Linked DNA regions of Homo sapiens. The protein of the gene in region 7 purifies or fractionates together with the protein of the main gene of each other region. This does not show direct contact. Each region holds a gene or a part of one and is shown on either strand. Other genes may lie near its edges.

Region 1 (4,230 bases), on a different chromosome or scaffold from region 7:
TGGTGAAGAATAAACTGGAATCATACCTGTCATTGAATCCTAGATGACTGGGGAGGCTGTCACTGGGGAGGTCTGGAAGGTCTGCCCCCTTGAGGAGGGCGTGGTGGTCCCTGGGGCTGTCCAGCAGGAGGTGCCTGAGGCTGCTGGGGATTGCCTCCTGCTGGAGGTGGGGGACCTTGAGGATTGTTGCCTTCTTGTTGGGGTGGTCCTTGTGGCTTTCCTGGAGGAGATCGGGCACTTCGGGACTTGCTGCCTCCTTGTGGGGGTGGTCCTTGTGGCTTTCCTGGAGGTGGGGGACCTTGAGGTTTGTTGCCTCCTTGTGGGGGTGGTCCTTGTGGCTTTCCTGGAGGAGGTGGGGGACCTTGAGGCTGGTTGCCTCCTTGTGGGGGTGGTCCTTGTGGCTTTCCTGGAGGAGATCGAGAACTTCGGGACTTGCTGCCTCCTTGTGGGGGTGGTCCTTGTGGCTTTCCTGGAGGTGGGGGACCTTGAGGTTTGTTGCCTCCTTGTGGGGGTGGTCCTTGTGGCTTTCCTGGAGGAGGTGGGGGACCTTGGGGCTGGTTGCCTCCTTGTGGGGGTGGTCCTTGTGGCTTTCCTGGAGGAGATCGGGCACTTTGGGACTTGTTGTCTCCTTGTGGGGGTGGTCCTTGTGGCTTTCCTGGAGGTGGGGGACCTTGAGGTTTGTTGCCTCCTTGTGGGGGTGGTCCTTGTGGCTTTCCTGGAGGAGGTGGGGGACCTTGGGGCTGGTTGCCTCCTTGTGGGGGTGGTCCTTGTGGCTTTCCTGGAGGAGATCGAGAACTTCGGGACTTGTTGTCTCCTTGTGGGGGTGGTCCTTGTGGCTTTCCTGGAGGTGGGGGACCTTGAGGTTTGTTGCCTCCTTGTGGGGGTGGTCCTTGTGGCTTTCCTGGAGGAGGTGGAGGACCTTGAGGCTGGTTGCCTCCTTGTGGGGGTGGTCCTTGTGGCTTTCCTGGAGGAGATCGGGGACTTCGGGACTTGTCTCCTTGTGGGGGTGGTCCTTGTGGCTTTCCTGGAGGTGGGGGACCTTGAGGTTTGTTGCCTCCTTGTGGGGGTGGTCCTTGTGGCTTTCCTGGAGGAGGTGGGGGACCTTGAGGCTGGTTGCCTCCTTGTGGGGGTGGTCCTTGTGGCTTTCCTGGAGGAGATGGGGGACCTTGAGGTTTGTTGCCTCCTTGTGGGGGTGCTCCTTGTGGATTTCCTGGAGAACAAAGAGAGAAGAGAAAGACAGAGTAAAAGCCCATACAAGATTCCCTGAATAGTTGCAGTAAATTTTTATCAGTTTGGGTAACAAGCTGAGTGGGGAAACACACAAAAATGAGACCAAGACATTAATTTCTTTGCATTTCAGTGAAGACATAGAACTCTGGAGTGGAGCGCCAGGGAAGAACAAAGCAGTTGAGGGCCTCTCATTATAAAGAGGAGACAGAATGAGGATGCTGCCCATTTGTCTGTCATCTCCCAGCAGGCACTCCTGGCCAGGGGGATGAGGTAACCCACTCCTGCTGTCATCTAAGCCAAGCATCTCTGCCGTTCAATTTGGTGGCCTGCTCATGATGCCCAGAATCAAGGTTGCATGAAGAGTGCCTATATTATTAGGAGCACTAACATTAATCAATTCCCGAAAGGAAAGTTTTGATAAGAAGACACTGGAGAACTGATCCATTCATAAGCAGAAAAAGACAGTCAGAACAGATTGAGAATGAATCGGGATTTACCTGCTATTAGGGAGGGAGATTCTTCCTGGCTGACATCTAGAAGAGAAGCACAGGATGATGGGAACAGTTACATCTTGAACCTTACAAGACTCACAAGTGTTCTACAGGGAAAACAGACTTCTCACCACACCCCATGCATCCCCTAAGTTAACTCATCAGCCACCATCTGTGAAGCTGCTGGAAGGGGAGGAAGGTGTAAGGGGAGGCAGGGTTGTTATGACAGAGCAACAGCCATGAACTCAACATAGAAGAGCCCCTTTTTTCCCTCCCTAGCATCCCTCAAGACTTAATGCTAATTTAGTTCACAAATGCCAGGTACTTCAATGTGATATTTTGGTGTTCTTATGCCCTCCATCTCCTATAAATACATTGCTTATGTACACATGCTTTCTCAATTGGGGTAACCAGAAGTAATCATTTCAATACAATCTTACCCATACCACTCCCAGCACATTGAAATACTGCGTGTAAGGGAGAGAAAAATGACAATGATTGGCTCTGATATTTCTGTATCTCTAGTTAAACAGAGACAAGTGTTCCATCCAATTCTCTGTCTCTGCAGTATCTCTGATACTGTGTGTGTCTATCGCCGTCATCGATGCTGATGCACTGTACAGCAAGGCCACCATCATCCCTGTGTACTTACTGAGATCAGTTTAGGATCTTCACAGCTGGACTTCCATGAATCTGCCTTGCATTCTCTACTGCATCCTTCACAGCACAGTTCTATCTATAAATGCAAATCTTACCTTCTCATTCCCCTGGAACAAATTCTTTATTGGATTTCATTGTACATTAAATAAATTAGAAACTCTTATTGTGGAATGAGGGCACAACAAGTCTCCTGATCCTAGGCATGAAAACTCTGCAGCCCCATCTGTGTTTTCATTCTCCTCTCTTCCCCGTAATTACCATTATCACCTCCTAAGCCCCAAGCAGAGTCACCACATCTTCTCCCCCTTCTGTTTTACCTTCATTTAAGTTCTGAGCTGAGCTCAGGGCCAGCAAGGCCACTGACAGCAGAATCAACAGCATCTTGCAGGAGGCTCTGGAGTCACTCCCAACTCTGTGCTGGGAGGAACGTGGCAACTCCCTTTATAAAGAGGAGAAGAACAATGGCACCTTTGAGCTCCACACTGGGTGGGCCTCACCACCTCAGAGACTGGCTTCTGCTTTGCTCACTGCAGGTCAGGTGTTTCCTTTATTTTTCTTTGAGACTCTAGCCCAGAGAGATGAGTTGGATAGGATATGTTGTTAGTGTCTTATTTCCAAAAGGTACAACTATGACTTGAACAATGGTTTTGAAGGAACTGTGTCCAAGCCATCAGCACTGTGTCATCACTGAACTTTAGATATCATTAGAGTTTCAATCTTTTAGGTAAGACTATCATCCACTTTCCACTGTGCTATTTATTTCTGTTTATGTGTGTGTGAGCAGCGATGCTACAACCAGCAGTGAAGATGGTCAATATCTCTGGATATTATTATGCCCTATTTCCATCTCTTGTGATGTGTGTGTACAGATATTTTCATATTTAGCTCAATTTTTGATGTGATAGAGATGGTTTCTGCTATCTATGAGATGTGTGAGGACAGCACACTTCTGTGCACACATAGATGACAGAAAGCTGCCCCGCAGCCTGCTCAGGATAGGGCTATTGTTCAAGTTTCTGTGGATCTCACTCAGCTGAGGCAAGGCTTGGTCCTGTACAACACAGGAAGTCTAAAATTTTGTATTCTAAAGTAATTTTAGAGGTTATTAACGCAAAATGGACACAGAAACCACCAGGAAATTTCTAGACCTGAGAAAACTGAATACATAGTTCTGTGAGGGAGCCATGCGATGTCATGTTGCTAAAATTTCCTTCATGCTCTTCCCTTTCTCTAGAATATTCTATAAAATTCACCCACTGCTTCATTTCTTTTAGGAATTATATCGAATTCTTACCACTGATAATTAAGTGGCCACAATTCTACATTCAAATAAGATAATCAGATACCACCATCAAACCCTCAATTGCATTCTATTGGTTTTATTGGTTTAGTCAGTATTTGTGTTACCTGTTTTCTCAGATTCTTCTTCCACGAGTATTTTTCTACAATATTCTGATATGCATTCCTCCCCACGTTCTTTCTAGTACTTCTTTTACATATTTTATTTTCTGAGTCAAGCTCATTATGTGTATCTTTTATTATGTAGCTGGCTTTTCCCCATGAATTTGGTGAGATTTCCTTTATTTAATCTTTTAAGTAATAGGATATATACTCCTCACCATCTTTTTTCATTCCTGTCTGTGTAATTTCACAATAAATGTTGTGTTTCCAAAAAGCCCTCTCAGAGTCCTGCATTGTTAGCACTTCTTTTAGCTGCTGGTTCTTCTCTTATATCTGGTAAATCCCTGCTCATCAGTTCATGGAATATACAGGTTAGTCAGTATCAACAGCTGCCATTTACCACTTAGACCTTCTGTGTGTCTTGTGTAATTGTTCACATTTTGTGCAT
Region 2 (3,500 bases), on a different chromosome or scaffold from region 7:
TGTCCCCAAGGAGACATTTGGAAATTTCTAGAGACATTTTTAGTTGTCACAACTTGGAGGGGATGACAACTAGTGGGTAGAGGCCAGGGATGCAGCTAAACATCCTACTGTGCATAGGACAGCATCCAGACAAAGAATTATCCAGCCCAAAATGTCAGTACCACCAAGGCTGAGAAACTCTGACCTAACCTAACCCTGACCTGAGCTGTTCTGCTTAGGGAGAAGGTCAAACATTTGACTCACTTTTCAGGGCAGTGCTCCAAGATTATTGAGGACATTTTTGTCTTGTTGACCACCCCTTAATACTCTTGAGGAATGACAATGCCTTTGAGAAATGTTAACTCCTATGAATAACCGTTCCCTGCTCCTGGCTGCATTGCCAATCTAGAGCCCAGAGAGGATGGAAGACTTTCAGCTCAGAGACTCCCAGCAGGCACTGCCAGGGGAGCCTGTTTCTCACCGGAAAGTGTCCCGGGGAACCTCTGCATTTTATCCCACAATTCCCCATCCTTCATTTCTATCAGCAGGTCTCAATCCTGGCTACACAGTAGAGTCCTCTGGGATACTAGGACCCACCCAGACCAGTTACTTCTGAATCTGGGGTAGGGCCTAGCCATTAGTATTTTTTAAAGGTTTCTCAGGTTCTGATGGCTCTGATGTGCAACGAGGGTTGAGACCCATGGATTTACACTGAAAAAGATTTCAACATTTTCCCTCCCTCCCTCCCTCCCTCCCTTCCTTCCTTTCTTCCCTCCCTCCCTCTCTCTCTTTTTCCGTCCTTCCTTCCTTCCCTTTCCCTTCCCCTTCCTTCCTTCCTTCTTTCCTTCCTTCCCTTCCCAATCCCCTTCCTTCCTTCTTTCCTTCCTTCCCTTCCCCTTCCCCTTCCTTCCTTCCTTCTTTCCTTCCTTCCCTTCCCCTTCCTTCCTTCCTTCTTTCCTTCCTTTCTTCTCTCTCTCTTTCTCTCTCTCTCTCCTTCCTTCCTTCCCTCTCTCTCTTTTTCCTTCCTTGCTTCCTTTTCTCCCTTTTTTTCTCTCTTTCTTTCTTTCTTTCTCTCTTTCTTTCTTTCTTCTTCTCTCTTTCTTTCTTCTTTCGAGTCTCACTCTGTCACCCAGGCTGGAGTGCAGTGGTGCAATCTCGGCTCACTGCAACCTCCACCTCCCAGGTTCAAGCAATTCTCCTGCCTCATCCTCTCTGATTCTCCTGCCTCATCCTCCCGAGTAACTGGGATTACAGGCGCCCACCACCATGTCTGGCTAATTTTTGTATTTTTAGTAGAGATGGGATTTCACCATGTTGGCCAGGCTGGTCTCAAGCTCCTGATCTCAGGGGATCCTCCTGCCTTGGCCTCCCAAAGTGCTGGGATTATAGGAGTGAGCCGCCACGACCAGCCTAGCTAGATTTTTTTCCATGCATCTTATGGAATACTCACAATTATATAAAGCAAGTCATTCCATCATCCCCATTTTATTTATTTATTTATTTTTAATTTTTTTTTTTTTGAGATAGAGTTTCTCTCTGTCGCCCAGGCTGGAGTGCAGTGGCGTTATCTCAGCTCACTGCAACCTCCGCCTCTTGGGTTCAAGTGATTCTTCTGCCTCAGCCTCCCAAGTAGTTAGGATTACAGGTGTGCGCCACTGCGCCCAGCTAATTTTTGTATTTTTAGTAGAGACGGGGTTTCGTCATGTTGGCCAGCCTGGTCTCAAGCTCCTGATCTCAGGGGATCCTCCTGCCTTGGCCTCCCGAAGTGCTGGGATTACAGATGTGGGCCACTGCGCCTGGCCTCAACATTTTCTAAATGAGCTCCTACCAGACGCTCACCTCTTAAACGTGCTATGCCTTTTCCCTTCATGCCAAATAAAATATTTCTATGACCATCATATCAAATCCAGTGAATGTAGTGGATTTGCTGATGATAATGGGATGCCGGCTTTCACACATTGTTCTTTCTACTTAGCTTTTCACCATTAAAGACAGATACTATGCAAGGAGCATTGTATAATTCCAAGTTTTTGTCATCTTTTCTACTGGAAAATATATTTTTAACTATTAAAGTGTGATGCCAGATAAAATATGATTTTGCTGGAGGCTGGGAAGAAAATCTACAGCTGGGTCCTACTTTATGAAATTCCCACCTTGAAACAGATAAATAAAATTATTCAAAGAAACAAAATTTTCTTTCTTACATAAGAAAATTCCAATGTTATGAAGTTTTTCACTTTTGGATTCCCTTTAAAAAACTCCCTGGATACGTACCTTTGCTAAAAGGTCGGAGTCTCAACATTCTACCTATAAGAAGCCATTGTCTTGAACTTTGAGATCACACAATTCATTATATTCATTGTTCATTATATTCATTATATCACACAATTCATTAATTCATTATATTGGTTCCCTCCCTTCTCATCTCTCTCTGTCTCTCCCCATTCTCTTCCAAAAAAGTACTGGAGAAAGGTAGCTTGAATTGGGCTGAATCAGTATTGCTTCTGAAATTAACCTTTTAAGATCTTATTTGAGCTTTATTTAGTTTTTGATTATTCACTTATTTTTCCCTGGCCTCTTTAATATGTAGATATTTCGACTATTAAAATAATGGATCTTCCTTTGACTATACATGCTACTCTTAAGCTTTACTAGTGCAGAAGCAGAAGTTGAAAATCATAACTCCAGCTTATTAGAGAAACAAACGTAATAGTATATTGTACAGTTGATGTATATTTCACAAAATGGAGATTAAATGTTTTACTGTATTTTTCTTGAAGGTAAGGACATGGAAGCCAACTTGGAGAAAAATAAAAATCTCCATTGTTTTAAAGTACTCTTAATAAGAATCACATTGTTTATATAAAGCAGTGTTATTTATTTATTTAGTTTTTGAGACAGAGTCTTGCCGTCATGCCTAGGCTGGAGTGCAGTGGCACAACTGTGACTCACTGCAGCCTCAACATCCTAGACTCAAGCGATCCTTCTGCCTCAGCCACCTGAGTAGCTGGGACCATAGGGGCACACCATCATGCCCAGCTATTCTAATTTTTTATTTTTCTGTAGAGATGGGTTTCTCTGTGTTTTCCAGGCAAGTCGCAAATCCTGGGCTCAAGTGATCCTCCCGCCTCGACCTGCCAAAGTGCTGAGATTACAGGTGTGAGCCACTGGCCCTGGCCTAAAATACTGTTTTAAATATTGCTACTGTCATTTTAAAGTACTCTTAATAAAATCACATTATTTAAAAAAGGATTTGCTGGAATGTTTTCGTAAATTATTAAACCCAATGTACCTATTTAATAATTACAAGTATTGTATAATGACTTTGAAACATAGATCTGATTTAAAGGCTGACACCAAGAGCAGCCTCTTAAAAATACTAGTGCATGTGGATGGAGGTGGGAAGGCAATCTGCAAAAGATCAAAGCGCTCCTGGGTGAAAGTAAAAGGATTATGGATTTTTTTTCCCCAAATTTTTTCATTTATTACATCATCTTTTCAAAGAAAAAAGTCGCCAGGCA
Region 3 (3,500 bases), on a different chromosome or scaffold from region 7:
TAAGAAAAAACTGAGTAAATACACCCAGACTGAGAGCACCTTTTAGACTTATTTGTGTCAGTGACGCCCAAAAAAAAGGACTCACACCATTTTATTCAAAACACTTATACACCTGTAAACACTGGGAAGTCCCCTCTGTGCCTCCGTGAATCACTGTCTTGTAGATTTTCCAACACAGAGCAGAGAGTTAAGTTTCTGGGGAGATATCAGGCTCTGTCCTGTCTGGAGGTCGAGAGCAAGACCGGGCTGTGTTTATTGCTCCCTGTGAGGTCACAGCCCCATGCGAGAGGCTGAGCTATTCTCAGGTACCCTCTGGGAGTCTGTGAAGAAGGAGGAAAACCACGAGGGACTGGGATCAGGAAGAGCAGCTGCTTCCTAGGCATCAGAGGCAATATTGGGGCATGGAATAAGATGTAGACGTGGGGTGCGATCAGCCTCAAAGAAGGACCCAGAAGTCAATGTTTGAGGAGGAGCTGAGGGCCCCAAACCAGATGATCAGATAAACTGGGCATACCTGCCTGTCTTAACATGGGACCCAGGCAGGGGGTTAGAAAGAGAGAGCGAGGCTGTCAGCAGGAGGTGGGCCTTAGAGTTGCTGCCCTGATGCCTTTCCAGGTGCACAGCTTTATTGAGGTTTCTGCTGAAGAAGAAACCAAGCCTAATACAGTTCACCGGGGCCTGAAGGCGGGTGAGGCAGCTAGGAGCATCCCACCATGGTGCCCTGGAGGCAGGTGAGGAGGTGGGGGGAGATGATCAGCCTCTACCTTCAGCAGATTCACTCTATAAAGGTTTCTGTAAATTCTGTGAGGGTGAACCTCAGTGCTTAATAGAAATGATTTCCTTTTACCTTCAAAAGAACTCTATGACTCAAACTATGATTATCTTCCTTCTGCATATTAGGAAACTGAGAGAGGATACGTGACTTACCCAACGTCACAAGGCTAACAAGTGTTGGTACAGGAATTTGGACCCAGGTCCATGTGACTCCAGACCTCATTTCTTAAGCCCACACATACTGCCCATGGCCAGAAGAGGTACATGAGGACATGCTAGAGATAAAATCTGTTCGTATTTTGGGTGAAAGGGCAGCCATACTACCACAGAGTGCATTTCCAATCCTGGGCCCCTCCTGCCTTGACCTTACCACATACTCGTCGATGAACTGCCGCAGGTCCCTGAAGCCGTGTTTCTCAGCGATGGTGTTGGGGTAGTGGCCATGCTTGTTGGCCACGCTGTACGCCTGCAGGGCTCCTGGGCAGGTGAGCAACAAGGCAGTGAGGTTCTTCAGTCCATACTTCGCAGCAAAATGCAACAGGGTGGGCAGCTCTTCATCCCTCTGATCTGAAAATTATCAAGGAAAACTTAATAGGCAGATAAAAATAAAGGCACAGGGTGCCCTTGTTCATGGAGATGAAGCTGCCAAGACTAGCATGGCAACAGAAAGCACTCAGCCATTACTTATTGATTGACTGACCTAACATCTAACAGCTTCCTTCAGGACACCACTGAAGATCATGTCCTCAGATGCAGAGGACATAATTTTTTTTGTTGAGATGGAGTCTCACTCTGTCACCCAGGCTGGAGTGCAGTGGCGCGATCTTGGCTCACTGCAACCTCTGCCTCCCAGTTTCAAGTGATTCTCTCGCCTCAGCCTCTCAAATAGCTAGGATTACAGCTGTGCATCACGCCCAGCTAATTTTTGTATTTTGAGTAGAGATGGGGCTTCACCATGTTATCCAGGCTGGTCTCATACTCCTGACCTCAAGTGATCCACCTGCCTCGGCCTCCCAAAGTGCTGGGATTACAGGCATGAGCCACCATACCCGGCCATAACATTTTAATTAATTAGCAAATCTAATAATGAATACCCTACCATCTTCTCTAACAGGACTGGAGAATCCTGAGAAAAAGTACCAGTTCAAAATGTGCCGGGTTTGTTTAAAGGCTTAACTAGCAGCCACACAGTACAATAGGAATCATGTTTTGAACTTCTCTGCAAAGTTCAGAGCATGTATTTCTTAAAGCTATTGTTTCGTGCTGATTAAAAGAAAGCAGTTCATCCTCTTAGCCCTTATTCCTAATTTCATGATAAGTACACCAAGTAATCCTGGGTATGTTCCTTAGACTTTCCGCTGCCTTTAGTTCTCAACCAGAAAATACTTCCAGACTATCTCAAAAGGACCTGGGAGGATAAGTAAGATAGTATTCAGCAGGGTTCCTATTTAGGAGAGATTTTGAATGTTGGTCTTAATGCACACAAGCCCCACCAGGACGTCAGTTCACTCTCTAATTGGTGAAAAGCAAAGTACTCCAGAGAGGTGCTGGGTCCCCACGGACCCCCTCCACCTACTGACATCTGAATACAGCAAGTTAAACTCAACCAAGAAAATGGACATGTTTGTGTTTGCGGAGCTGGGGACAAATCTCTTTTTTCATAAACGTTTATTTTTAAGCCCAACAACTTTATAGACATACATTTATATACAAATGTATATTTTTTAACATGACAAACCCAGCCTTCTATTCCAAATATGACCTTGGAATGAAGGGTCTGAAAATATTCCCAGGATCTCAAATTGTCAGGCTATGAAATACTTTCTTCTAAGCCCCAAACTTAATAGAGAATAGTCACATCTACAAAAGTGCTGCAAGAACATTCCATAGTAGGAAAATGGGGAGAGGCAATACGAAAGAGAGTCCCCCAGGAGAAGGCCTCGAAAGTCATGTAAACTCACCCTTATGGTTCTCTTAGACTACAGAAGGATGGAACGTAGGCAGAAGGTAACCAGAGACTTGGGTCCCATTTGTGTAGTGCAACCATGGCATGAAGGAACGGTGGTGTCCACAGAAACACTACAATAGGCATCCTGTCCAGAACACCAAGCATCATCCCCGTGCAAGGGGTGTGACTCTCTCAGCTCCCAGCATGTCACATGTGCACAAGAGGCTGCTCCTCCCTCATTAAACAACTACTTGTTTAGAGCCTACAAAGAGCCAGCCACCCAGGAGCAGTTCCAGCCCTCACTGAGCGGACAGCCTAGCAAAGAAGACAGACACAGCTGAGGAGTGCTAGGTCAATGGCACCCAACATGCTGGTGGTCGGGGGGTGCCAAAGCAGGTGAATGGAACCTACTGGAGGTTTGGAGAAGGTCTTCTAGGGAAGTGCTACCTAAGCTGCTACAGGGAAGTGAGAGAAGTTAGCCAGGTAAACAGCAACCAAGGCAGGAAGGAAGGACTATCTTTCCATGAGTCTAAGTGGCAAGAGACAGGTGAAAAAAGCTCATACCTCCTGCAGATCAAAGCATAGAAAAGACAAGAGGGAGTGTGGAGAGAGATGAGGGCTTGTTCACAGGTTAAGCAGTTTGGATTTTATCTAGAAGGCAACTGGGAACCTCCCCTGACAGTACTTAGCTTACCTGTTCCTCATGCTATCCCTATGAGGAATAATCATAACAAGCTCCATTGGCTTACGCCAAACCAATTTAAAATCACTCATTTCC
Region 4 (3,500 bases), on a different chromosome or scaffold from region 7:
GGTTAGGCACTGTTTCATGCTTTGGAGATATAGTAGTGAACAAGATAGATGAGGTGCCTGCCTACTTTTGTGAAGACAATAAACAAACAATAAATTAATTCAACAATTAGATATTGATAAGTGATATGTACATAACTAAAATAAGAGTGCTATTATACAGAATATTTGGGGGTACTTTAAGGAAAGGAGGTTTTGTGGTAGAGGGGACATTTGAACTTAAAATGGAAAAATAAGAAGGAAGTAGCCTTGTTAATTAGAGAATTTTAGCACAAGGAACAGTGCAAAGATTCCAAGATGAAAATCAGCTTGTCATGTTAGAGATATAGAAAAAGACCAACTCAGTTAGAAAATTGTGGACAAAGCAGGAGTAATACAACATAAAGTCAGAGATACAGACGGGTCAGATAATGATCTTCTAAATAAGGTGACATTTGTGCATTTTATTTTAGGTGTGATGAGACTAGATGATATTTTTTGGTAAGAGAGTGATCTAATATGGTTTGATTTTTAAAGATTGCTTTGTGCAATTGTTTATTAGTTTCAGACTAACTCTGAATACAACTAGAAAATGTGTGTGTGTGTGTGTGTGTGTGTGTGTGTGTTTGAAGGTATCACAGAGCTATCAAGATTGTGACAATTTATTGGGGCTTACATTCAGATTTAGAGGGAAATATAGTATTTGGGGAATTAAAAGACAAAATTTTCTAAAACTGATGAAAGATATCAAGGTACAGGTTCAAAACGATATTATAAACTCCAAGCAGGAGATATAAAAGAAAACCAAAGCAAGACATATAATAATAAAACTGCTGAACATTTGAGGCAATGAGGAAATCCTAAGAGCAGACAGAGAAACACTTGTATTACCTTCAAAGGAGCGACAATAAGATTGATACTTGTCTTTTCAAAAGAAACAATGGAAGCTAAAAGACGATGAAATGTTATATTCATCTTTCTGAAGCAAAATAAGTTATATGTTAACAGTGAAAATATCCACCAAAAAGAAAACATGTAAAGATATTTTCAAGCAAAGAAAAACAGAGCTAATCACCAGAGACCTACTGTAAAGGAAATATTAAAGGATAATTCTAGTTGGAAGCACAGAGGAGCAAGAAAGAATAAGAACAATGGAAAGAGCATATGTGTGGAAAAATATAGCTAGATATTGATTGCATAAAATAATAATAGTAATCTTTCAGGATTTAAGATAAATAGAATTAAAATACATAACAATCCCAGATAAGGCAGTGAGAAAATGGAGTTAAGTATTGTAGGATACTTGTATTATTTGGGTAGGGGTTAAAGTATTTTTTTCTTAATAATATACCCTAACAAATCAAGGATGCATGCTATAATTTTTAGGGCAAGGATGCAGATAATAATAAAAGAGTGTATAATTAATAAGCTTTTGTATAAAGATAATTAACTGGTAAATATTAACTTAATCCAAAAAAGTCAAGAATAGAAAAAGAAATACAGAACAGGTGAGATAGTAGAAACCAAGTAGTAATATTGTAGAGATGTAAACCAAATAGTTCCATAATAACTCTGAATATAAATAGAGTAAATATGCTAATTAAGGGACAAGGCTGTCAGACTGGATTAAAAAAAACCAACTGTATTCTGCTTATAAGAGACACACATAAAATGTGATTAAAATGATTGTAAATGAAAGGGTGGAAGAAAGAGATACCATTCAAACACTAAAAGAAAGCTGTTATTATTATATTCATATCTGTCAAGCAGACTTTAAGGCAAAAAATATTGCTAGAAGGAAATTTTATAATAATAAAAGATCAATTCTCCAGGAAGCCTCAAAATACATAAATAAAAATCGACAGAAGTATAAGGAGGACCAGGCAATCTACAATCATAGTGGGGTATTTAAATACACTTCTCTCAGCAACTGATAGAAGAAGTAAAAAATATGTAAGAATGTAGAATATTTCTACAAAATTATTAATAAAACATCAACATACATTGAACACTACACCTAACAACTGCAGAATATCCATTCTTTTGAAATTGACCATATACTGGGCCATAAAGCAAGTTTCAATAAATTTTAAAGGGTTGAAATCATAGAGTTTGTTCTCTAACACAGTGGAATGAAGCAAGCATTAAATAATAGGAAGATAACTAGAAAAATCTTTAAGTGTTTGAAAATTAATGACTTCTAAATAATCAATGGGTCATTGAATAAATTACAATGCAAAATTAGAAAATATTTTGAACTAAATGAAAATGAGAAAAATATGAAATAGCATAACTTGTGGAATACATTAATTCCATGCCTAATAGATATTTATAGCCTATATATATATACACACACACATATATACATATATACACTCACATATATATGTATATAAACACATACATATATATATGAATGATATCTCTTTTTCCCATCCTTTCATTTTCAATCACTGTTATCATTTTTTATGTGTGAATCTTATAAGCAGCATACAGTTGTGTGTGTATATATATGTATATGAAAGACTGAAAAATTAATTACCTAAGCATATATTTCAAGAAGTTTTAAAAAGAACAAATTAAGCCCTAAGAAAGTATAATGAAGGAAATAATAAAGATAACTAAAATTAATAAAAGAGAAAGAAAATTTAGAGAACCAACAGTGCCAAGATTCAGCCTTTGAAAAATCTAATAAAACTGATAACCCCTGCAAGATTAATCAAGGAAAGAAGAGTAAGTACCAATATCAGGAAAGTAAAAGGGGACATTGCTATCGAGGTTTTAGACATTAGAAAGATGACAAGAGCATATTATAAAAAACATTATACCAGCTAATTTGAAAATTTAGATGACATAGAAGAAATGTCTAGAAAAACACTTGTTACCAAAACTGAACCAACAATAAATAGAAAACCTAAATAGTACTATGTTTATTAAAGAAATTGAATCTTAAATGCATTCATTTCCAGTGGGGGAGAAACTGCAGGTCAGATGGCTTTACTGAATTCTATTCAAAGTGAAAGAAAGAAATAACTATAACATCACATAGATTATTTCAGAGAAATGAAAAACAGGAAACACCCATTTTATTAATCCAAACTGGCCTCAGTACCATAACCTGACAACGATATAAGAATCAAAATTTTCAGGACAATTCCTTTCATATAGATGCAAAACTCTGAAAGAATATAATAGCAGACTGAATTCAGTAGTATATAAAAAGAATATATGTTATTCCTAACTACATTTTATTCCAAAATTCATTTTTGGATTAACATTTGAAAACCAACCAATTAAGTACTGAAATAGAATAATGGGGAAAATTATATGAACCTCTCAATAGATGAAAAATTGATAAAATCCAATATTAATTCTGATTAATAAATAAAAGATTATGTCTTTGAAAAATGTCATAGCAAAAATTATATTTAATGGTGAAATGAAAGCTTTCATCTCCAAGTTTGGGAATGAAACTAGTATGCCTGCATCATCCTATTGATATATACTATGTATAGTATCATCCT
Region 5 (3,500 bases), on a different chromosome or scaffold from region 7:
TAGATCCATGTTGACCGTAGCCAGAGGACTGTCCTGAGCGAGACTCTCGGTGACCTAAGCCAGAAGAGTGACCGGAGCCAGACTCATATGGGCCACGGCTGGAAGACCACCCTGAGCCAGACCCATATGGGCTGTAGCTGGAAGACTGCCCAGAACCAGACCCATGTCGGCCACGGCTAGGGCTAGGAGACTGGCCAGATCCAGACCCATGTTGGCCGTGGCCCAAAGACTGACGGGAGCCAGACCCATGCTGACCATAGCTGGAAGATGAACCTGAGCTAGATCCGTGTCGTTCACCCCTAGATGACTGTCCTGACCTAGAGCCGTGTTGTTCGTAGCTGGAGGAGTGACCTGAGCCAGATCCATGCTGAGTGTAACCAGAGGACTGCCATGAGCTAGACTCGTGGTGACCAAATCCAGAAGACTGACCTGAGCCAGACCCATGTCGGCCACTGCTGGAAGACCAACCGGAGCCAGACCCATGTTGGCCGTAGCTGGAAGAGTGCCCGGAACCGGACCCATGTCGGCCGCGACTAGGAGACTGGCCAGATCCAGAGCCCTGTTGGCCATAGCTAGAAGACTGACTTGAGCCAGAGCCATGCTGACCGTGGCTGGAAGACTGACCTGTGCTAGATCCCTCCTGGTCAAAGGTTGATGACTGTCCTGATGTAGAACCATGCTGTCCTTGGCTACAGAAGTGCCCTGAGCCACTACCATGCTGACTGTAAGCAGAGGAATGTCCTGAGCCAGACTCATGTTGACCAAAGACAGAAGAGTGACCCGAGCGAGACTCATATGGGCCACGGCTGGAAGAACGACCTGAGCCAGACCCATGTTGGCCGTGGCTGGAGGAGTGCCCCGAACCGGACCCATGTCGGCCGCGGCTAGGGGAATGGCCAGATCCAGACCCTTGTCGGCCGTGGCCCGAAGACTGACGGGAGCCAGACCCATGCTGACCATAGCGGGAAGACGAACCTGAGCTAGATCCGTGTCGTTCACCCCTAGATGACTGTCCTGATCTAGAGCCGTGTTGTCCGTAGCCAGAGGAGTGACCTGAGCCAGACCCATGCTGACTGTAACTAGAGGACTGCCCTGAGCTAGACTCGTGGTGACCAAAGCCAGAAGACTCGCCTAAGCCAGGCCCATGTTGGCCACTGCTGGAAGACCGACCGGAGCCAGACCCATGTCGGCCATAGCTGGGAGACTGCCTTGACCCAGACCCACGCTGGCCGTGGCCTGGAGACTGGCCAGATCCAGAGCCCTGTCGGCCATAGCCAGAAGACTGACTTGAGCCAGAGCCATGCTGACCGTGGCTGGAAGACTGACCTGAGCTAGCTCCATGTTGGCCACAGCTCGATGACTGTCCTGATGCAGAACCATGTTGCCCATGGGTAGAGGAATGACCTGAGCTAGATCCATGTTGACCGTAGCCAGAGGACTGTCCTGAGCGAGACTCTCGGTGACCTAAGCCAGAAGAGTGACCGGAGCCAGACTCATATGGGCCACGGCTGGAAGACCACCCTGAGCCAGACCCATATGGGCCGTAGCTGGAAGACTGCCCAGAACCAGACCCATGTCGGCCACGGCTAGGGCTAGGAGACTGGCCAGATCCAGACCCATGTTGGCCGTGGCCCAAAGACTGACGGGAGCCAGACCCATGCTGACCATAGCTGGAAGATGAACCTGAGCTAGATCCGTGTTGTTCACCCCTAGATGACTGTCCTGACCTAGAGCCGTGTTGTTCGTAGCTGGAGGAGTGACCTGAGCCAGATCCATGCTGAGTGTAACCAGAGGACTGCCATGAGCTAGACTCATGGTGACCAAATCCAGAAGACTGACCTGAGCCAGACCCATGTCGGCCACTGCTGGAAGACCAACCGGAGCCAGACCCATGTTGGCCGTAGCTGGAAGAGTGCCCGGAACCGGACCCATGTCGGCCGCGACTAGGAGACTGGCCAGATCCAGAGCCCTGTTGGCCATAGCTAGAAGACTGACTTGAGCCAGAGCCATGCTGACCGTGGCTGGAAGACTGACCTGTGCTAGATCCCTCCTGGTCAAAGGTTGATGACTGTCCTGATGTAGAACCATGCTGTCCTTGGCTACAGAAGTGCCCTGAGCCACTACCATGCTGACTGTAAGCAGAGGAATGTCCTGAGCCAGACTCATGTTGACCAAAGACAGAAGAGTGACCCGAGCGAGACTCATATGGGCCACGGCTGGAAGAACGACCTGAGCCAGACCCATGTTGGCCGTGGCTGGAGGAGTGCCCCAAACCGGACCCATGTCGGCCGCGGCTAGGGGACTGGCCAGATCCAGACCCTTGTCGGCCGTGGCCCGAAGACTGACGGGAGCCAGACCCATGCTGACCATAGCGGGAAGACGAACGTGAGCTAGATCCGTGTCGTTCACCCCTAGATGACTGTCCTGATCTAGAGCCGTGTTGTCCGTAGCCAGAGGAGTGACCTGAGCCAGACCCATGCTGACTGTAACTAGAGGACTGCCCTGAGCTAGACTCGTGGTGACCAAAGCCAGAAGACTCGCCTAAGCCAGACCCATGTTGGCCACTGCTGGAAGACCGACCGGAGCCAGACCCATGTCGGCCGTAGCTGGGAGACTGCCTTGACCCAGACCCACGCTGGCCGTGGCCTGGAGACTGGCCAGATCCAGAGCCCTGTCGGCCATAGCCAGAAGACTGACTTGAGCCAGAGCCATGCTGACCGTGGCTGGAAGACTGACCTGAGCTAGCTCCATGTTGGCCACAGCTCGATGACTGTCCTGATGTAGAACCATGTTGCCCATGGGTAGAGGAATGACCTGAGCTAGATCCATGTTGACCGTAGCCAGAGGACTGTCCTGAGCGAGACTCTCGGTGACCTAAGCCAGAAGAGTGACTGGAGCCAGACTCATATGGGCCACGGCTGGAAGACCACCCTGAGCCAGACCCATATGGGCTGTAGCTGGAAGACTGCCCAGAACCAGACCCATGTCGGCCACGGCTAGGGCTAGGAGACTGGCCAGATCCAGACCCATGTTGGCCGTGGCCCAAAGACTGACGGGAGCCAGACCCATGCTGACCATAGCTGGAAGATGAACCTGAGCTAGATCCGTGTCGTTCACCCCTAGATGACTGTCCTGACCTAGAGCCGTGTTGTTCGTAGCTGGAGGAGTGACCTGAGCCAGATCCATGCTGAGTGCAACCAGAGGACTGCCATGAGCTAGACTCGTGGTGACCAAATCCAGAAGACTGACCTGAGCCAGACCCATGTCGGCCACTGCTGGAAGACCAACCGGAGCCAGACCCATGTTGGCCGTAGCTGGAAGAGTGCCCAGAACCGGACCCATGTCGGCCGCGACTAGGAGACTGGCCAGATCCAGCCCCATGTCGGCCATAGCCAGAAGACTGACTGGAGCCAGAGCCACGGTGGCCATAGCTGGAAGACTGGCCTGTGCTAGATCCCTCCTGGTCAAAGGTTGATGACTGTCCTGATGTAGAACCATGC
Region 6 (3,147 bases), on a different chromosome or scaffold from region 7:
TAAAGACTGAGTCATTTCCTTAAAACAGTGTTCTTTAACCTCCTCTTCTTCACATACAGCATATCTAATTCTTTATCACAACAGGTTTTATGGAGGTACACAGAATGTAGGATACTGATAATAGTTATGTCTTTATTTTCTTTGGAAAATGAAATGAGTTAATATTTATCAAAAAAAGTCAGTCAGATAGTAAATATCGTATTCCTGTGAGCTGTTATTATTATCATTGATGTACAAGACTAAAAATTAGGTAAGTATTCTCACAGGACAACAGGTAACTTTGACATTATGTTTCTTTCAATATTGTAGTGTATACTTTATCAAAAAAAGAATATAAGAATATTACCGATGAAGATAATAAGAATAAGAAAACGATTTTGAGCGTTTCATATAACAAATAGGACCAGGCGTGGTGGCTCTTGCATGTAACTCAGCACTTTGGGAGGCTGAGGCAGGAGAATTCCTTGAGGCCTGGAGTTTGGGACCATCCTGGACGATATAGCAAGACCCTGTCTCTAAAGAACAAAGCACAACAAGTCTAAAATAACTCAGAAATAGCTGAAAGCTAATTTTTATATAATATAAACTTATCGGTTAAAATGCTTTAAAGTCCTTATGCAAAATGTTTTTTTTTCCTAAATTTCTTCTAGGTAATTGATCTGGGTGGTGAGCCAATTAAAAGCAGTGACTACTTTGGTAATGGCCGGGTGACAGAATTCAAGTATGGTGCAAAACTCGGCACAGTTATTCGCAAGTGGAATGGAGAGAAGATGTCTTACTTAAAGTAAATAAATACAACTTTTCCCCTGAACTATTTCATAGATCTGTTAGTCATACTACCCCAGTGCGAGTTATCTTCTGGAACATTCTTATTCAGACAACTATTAAGGAGTCAGTTGTTAATGATAAGTATTCTAGTGCCCTAAACTCTAATCAATCATCTTTTGTATTTAGAGTGTCTGTCACAAGACAGTATGCCTAGGAACGCTAAACTTACCCTAGGAGTTTCTGTCTGCGTACAAGATGAATATACTGGATTTGACTGATGTTTGCATATAATCTTTTAAAGCCAGGTTATTATTAAAATGATCCTATCATTTATAAAGTATGTACAAAGTGTCCATGCTATTGTATTTACTTATACGAATTGGAAATGTAAAATGATTTATATTATAACAATACAATATTAAAGCCTTATTTTAATCTAGTTTGACATTCTGTATAATGTGATGTGGATATTGATCCTTCTGGAGTGCCTCTAAATGATAATGTGCTGAAACCTCTGAAAGGAAATTTTTTAATAACAAACATTTTATATTTGTAATATGAATATAAGTATTCCATACATGTATATACAAATATGGACTATATATATGTAGATTACACACGTGTGTTTGTTTATGAGGTGTGTGTGTATATATATGTGAGTGTGTGTTTGTGTGTGTGTGTGTATATATATATATCTTACAGAGTAACCATCTAATTAGAGAAAGAATTTAATCTTCAGATGCCATGCCTTACAGAAAGAGATGCACAGTAGAGTTACTCTCAAACTATTGTGAAATGATACATCAACGTATATCTTATGTTTCAAAAATAGGAACTGGGGAGAAGGTTGGGGTTTCATGCCTTCTGACAGAGCGCTTGTCTTTGTGGATAACCATGACAATCAACGAGGACATGGCGCTGGAGGAGCCTCTATACTTACCTTCTGGGATGCTAGGTAAAAAACCAAGTTCTCTATTTTTTTAACACCTCTTTTAATGATGGTATGAATATTGTGATATTCTATGATAATATAATTATGTAACTTTCAGGCTGTACAAAATGGCAGTTGGATTTATGCTTGCTCATCCTTATGGATTTACACGAGTAATGTCAAGCTACCGTTGGCCAAGATATTTTGAAAATGGAAAAGTAAGTTTTGGAGTTGTTCAAAATATCCTTTTCTCAAGAAAAAAGAGGCAATCTTCTCCTAATTTAATATGACAACTATTAAGTGTTTATTTATTCAACAAATATTTAATTATTGTAAACCTGATACAGGATTGTGATTTAGTAATGCAGGTTATATTAAAGGAATAAACTTTATATTCTCCATTGAAAAAGAATAGCAAGCTTTTTCAGAGATATGACAAACATCCCCCTAGCCCGCAGGGAAAATAAAAATAAAAATTAAAAAAACCACTTAAAAATAAGAGCTAGGCACAGGGATTAAAATATATACTTCGTACCTTCCTCAGGTTTAATTGGAAGAATATAGATGCCAACCCTTGTAGAGAACTTAAAACATCATCTGCCCGTAGTGAGAACAATATAAATGTCTTTTAAATACTGTTAAAAAGTTATATGGAATAGAAACAAATGATCCAGTTCAGCTGAGTTAAATAGGGAAAGTATACTATAAGAGGAAGGAAATTGTATGTACTAAAGGATAGAAATTTATAGAGAGTATTCCAAGAAAGGTAAGAATGAGAAAAATATTTGGGAGTATGGTAAAGACATCACTCTGCTGAGTAGTTTCAAAAAGGAACAGAGAAATAAGAGTGTAAAGATATTTGGAAAGCTAGTAGAAGGTTTTCTTTTAAACTAAAGGGTTGAGAAACAGCATCAGAGACTTCAGAACTAAAGCAGAAATTCCTCCTTCCTATGAGTCACACAGATATCTAGCTAGCTTTTTTTAGATTCCTTTCAGTTTGAGAAGTCCGCTACTATGTATAACAACTGATTCTATTGTTAAACAGCTTTAATATTTAGAAGGTGTACTTTTATATTGAGACAACTTCTTATAATTTCTACTAATTGGTCTTATTTCTGTTGTTAGGAGTCAGAGAGTTCTTTTATTTTTTCTATTACTATAACATTCCCACTTTGACAGGACTGCTGCATGCTATAAACTCTTAAGTTTTGTTCACTTTTCACCATATGACGTGATTTTAAGGTGAACACTGATAAACTTCCTAGGGTTACTCTGTGTTTTTTAATGAAGATTTCTTAAAGTGCCAATCAGAAAAGCATAATACTAAAAATATGGTCAATTTATAAAAAAAAAATGTTCAGATGTAGTATTTTGTACATTTATCTAAAAAGAAGCATGACGGCCTCCAATATTTATTTAGCATATGTCATGTTCAAGGCATTTTCACA
Region 7 (2,790 bases):
TTTCTTTTGTTGTGCAGAAGCTCTTTAGTTTAATTAGATCCCATTTGTGAATTTTGGCTTTTGTTGCCATTGCTTTTGGCATTTTCTTCATGAAGTCTTTGTCCATGCCTATGTCCCGAATGATATCACCTAGGTTTTCTTCTAGGGTCTTTTTTTGGTTTTGGGTTTTTCATTTAATTTTCAATCCATCTTGAGTTAATTTTTGTATAAGGTGTAAGGAAGGGGTCCAGTTTCAGTTTTCTGTATATGGCTAGCCAGTTTTCCCAGTACCATTTATTGACTAGGAGATCCTTTTCCCATTGCTTGTTTTTGTCAGGATTGTCGTAGATCAGATAGCAAGCAGAGACCTGCATCATGAATGAACTCCCATTCACAATTGCAACAAAGATAATAAAATACCTAGAAATACAACTAACAAAGGATGTGAAGGACCTCTTCAAGGAGAACCAAAAATCACTGCTCAAGGAAATAAGAGAAGATGCAAACAAATGGAAAAACATTCCATTCTCATGGATAAGAAGAATCAATTTCATGAAAATGGCCTTACTGCCCAAAGTAATTTATAGATTCAATGCTATTCTCATCAAACTACCATTGACATTTTTCACAGGATTAGAAATAAGTACTTAAATTTCATAATTATCTACAGAAGAGCTCATATACACAAGACAATTGTAAGCAAAAGGAACAAAGCTGAAGGCATCACACTACTTGACTTCAAACTACCCTACAAGGCTACGGTTACCAAAACAGCATGGTACCGGTACCAAAACAGACATATAGACCAATGGAACAGAACAGAGACCTCAGAAATAACACCACATATCTACAAAGTCAGAAGCATCTATATAAATCAACACACTTCAAAGAGCTAACCCACGCTACATTTCTTAAACTGGAATGATTGTTGGCTTAATGGCTTTTTTTTAATTTTTCCTTGTTTTAACTGTCAGTGTTGATACTTCTAGAAAGAAAAGTAACTAGAGTCAGCTTACCTCCATAATCATGCCCCGTGATTACTGAAGATATCAATTGTCATACAGATAATTTGATCTATAGCCTCGATGTGAATGATGCTTTTCCTGCATACACACAAAAGGAGAGAGCAAATTGCAGAGAATAGAGGCAATGACAGTAAAAATGCTTCACAAAAACTGTCACTGAAAGCTTAGATTGTTAAAGTTGTTATGACCTCGTGTGTTATCTACATAAATGTTTTCAAATTTTTAGTTACATTTTTCTTCTTTCAGAAAAATGTTTAAAAGCAAGTAAAAATGATAAAGTATTTACTGTGTGTTGATATTTTTGTGGCAATAATAAATGTTGGAACACTGATTATAGGCAACCTCTCCAAACAGGTTTTAAATCTTCTTAACAACATTACCTCCAAGTTACTATTTTGCCCAACATTGAGTATAACGGGGAGGAGAAAGTTACCGTTTCCAACTTAGGTGGTGTTTCTTCATCTTATTCTTTTAATGAGCTTACTTTCTCTTACAACTCCTACATTCTTTCATACCCACTGCTGTTAACACAAACAGTCCTCATTCCTTTTTATGCATCATTTTACTTAGTGCTTTTTTAACACATATACTTGCTATATTAGTAAGCAGAACTTTTGAACCCCTATTCATACTGATATTAGAGGTCAAAATAATATGATATTTTTATACATACATTTAGAAAAATGTTAAATAAAATTTTCTGTCTAATTTAGCACAGTAAGTTTAATTTAAAGACTTTATCATCCTCAAATATTATAAGATAGAAACCACATTACATGGGTAGCCTCTATGCTTCATTAGGCATATGTTATACTTCATAGAATTAGGAATTATTCATAGAATTAGGAACTATTCTTTAGGTCAATGTAATTATTTATAAGAGAAAGATACTTAAGCTCTCAAAGAATAATTGAAAATTGACTTATTCAGAGTGTAATTGAGTTTCCGTTGAAATGCTGTTAGAACACAAGATTTTTGTGACCTTTTACCTCTGTAACAAGAATAAATGAAATCAATGTACACTTTAGCAATTAATGATATAAATATATTTGAGAGATAACTATCAATTATTCTAGGAGAATAAATAGTCAGAGAAGAAAACTTATTCAGAGTGCACATTATCAGAAGAACACTTACATGGAATTTTCTTTTATACCCATGATGTCTCTATGAAATAAAAAGAAAAGATTAAAAATTCAATATATGATTAATTATCAAGTTTTCCAGTAAATGAAAATGTCTTACCTTTGCATGTGAATCAGCTCCCTTGGAAAAGAAGAAAATGAGAAAATAATTAATATCTTAATTTCATAATTCAAGAATATGTGTAAAAATTGACTTAGCCACATTTATGATTAAATAGAATGGAGGCATTCTTTGGATGATGACATGCTAAATTAGTTATTTTAGCTTTATGACATCTTTAAAATGAGTGAAGGGTAAACTTCTCTATAATTAATATGCTATATTAAAGTATCAACTCATTTTGGTTTATATATCTTTTTTATGAAAGGCAAGAAAAGTCTATCATTGGTGAATAAGAGAGTGGAAACTGAAAAATGAAACATTGGATTGTTTTTTATATGAATATGTTCTATGTAGCTCAAAAGCTACCAACATACAAATATTTTATTTGCTGATAGAGACAGGCATTGTGCTTTTCTCTGTTCTTCTTATATGTTTATTTTTCTACTTCTATCCTTCTATAATAAAATCATGTGATAAACTGTGATGCCATAACCAATTTTGTTTTTGAAACATTCATTTGAATTTAGTGGATAGGTTG

What was found.
Region 1: the proteins of HTN3 (region 7) and PRB2 purify together in Homo sapiens (affinity purification with mass spectrometry, with the first as the bait; one study listed by BioGRID). This does not show direct contact.
Region 2: the proteins of HTN3 (region 7) and BPIFB1 purify together in Homo sapiens (affinity purification with mass spectrometry, with the first as the bait; one study listed by BioGRID). This does not show direct contact.
Region 3: the proteins of HTN3 (region 7) and PIK3AP1 purify together in Homo sapiens (affinity purification with mass spectrometry, with the first as the bait; one study listed by BioGRID). This does not show direct contact.
Region 4: the proteins of HTN3 (region 7) and FLG purify together in Homo sapiens (affinity purification with mass spectrometry, with the first as the bait; one study listed by BioGRID). This does not show direct contact.
Region 5: the proteins of HTN3 (region 7) and HRNR purify together in Homo sapiens (affinity purification with mass spectrometry, with the first as the bait; one study listed by BioGRID). This does not show direct contact.
Region 6: the proteins of HTN3 (region 7) and AMY1A purify together in Homo sapiens (affinity purification with mass spectrometry, with the first as the bait; one study listed by BioGRID). This does not show direct contact.

The regions. Positions count from the first base shown.
Region 1 is NC_000012.12:11,392,768-11,396,997, forward strand, and holds the start of PRB2 (basic salivary proline-rich protein 2 preproprotein), read right to left. Parts: upstream 2,801-4,230; 5' UTR 2,763-2,800; coding exon 2,699-2,762; intron 1,764-2,698; coding exon 1,728-1,763; intron 1,211-1,727; coding exon 60-1,210; 3' UTR 27-59; intron 1-26.
Region 2 is NC_000020.11:33,293,214-33,296,713, reverse strand, and holds part of BPIFB1 (BPI fold-containing family B member 1 precursor), read right to left. Parts: intron 1-3,500. UniProt on the Homo sapiens protein: May play a role in innate immunity in mouth, nose and lungs. Binds bacterial lipopolysaccharide (LPS) and modulates the cellular responses to LPS.
Region 3 is NC_000010.11:96,647,515-96,651,014, forward strand, and holds part of PIK3AP1 (phosphoinositide 3-kinase adapter protein 1), read right to left. Parts: intron 1,342-3,500; coding exon 1,145-1,341; intron 1-1,144. UniProt on the Homo sapiens protein: Signaling adapter that contributes to B-cell development by linking B-cell receptor (BCR) signaling to the phosphoinositide 3-kinase (PI3K)-Akt signaling pathway.
Region 4 is NC_000001.11:152,318,740-152,322,239, forward strand, and holds part of FLG (filaggrin), read right to left. Parts: intron 1-3,500.
Region 5 is NC_000001.11:152,214,194-152,217,693, forward strand, and holds part of HRNR (hornerin), read right to left. Parts: coding exon 1-3,500. UniProt on the Homo sapiens protein: Component of the epidermal cornified cell envelopes.
Region 6 is NC_000001.11:103,658,760-103,661,906, forward strand, and holds part of AMY1A (alpha-amylase 1A precursor), read left to right. Parts: intron 1-650; coding exon 651-784; intron 785-1,600; coding exon 1,601-1,723; intron 1,724-1,817; coding exon 1,818-1,917; intron 1,918-3,147. UniProt on the Homo sapiens protein: Calcium-binding enzyme that initiates starch digestion in the oral cavity.
Region 7 is NC_000004.12:70,031,459-70,034,248, reverse strand, and holds part of HTN3 (histatin-3 precursor), read right to left. Parts: intron 2,271-2,790; coding exon 2,250-2,270; intron 2,172-2,249; coding exon 2,142-2,171; intron 1,083-2,141; coding exon 1,029-1,082; 3' UTR 996-1,028; intron 1-995.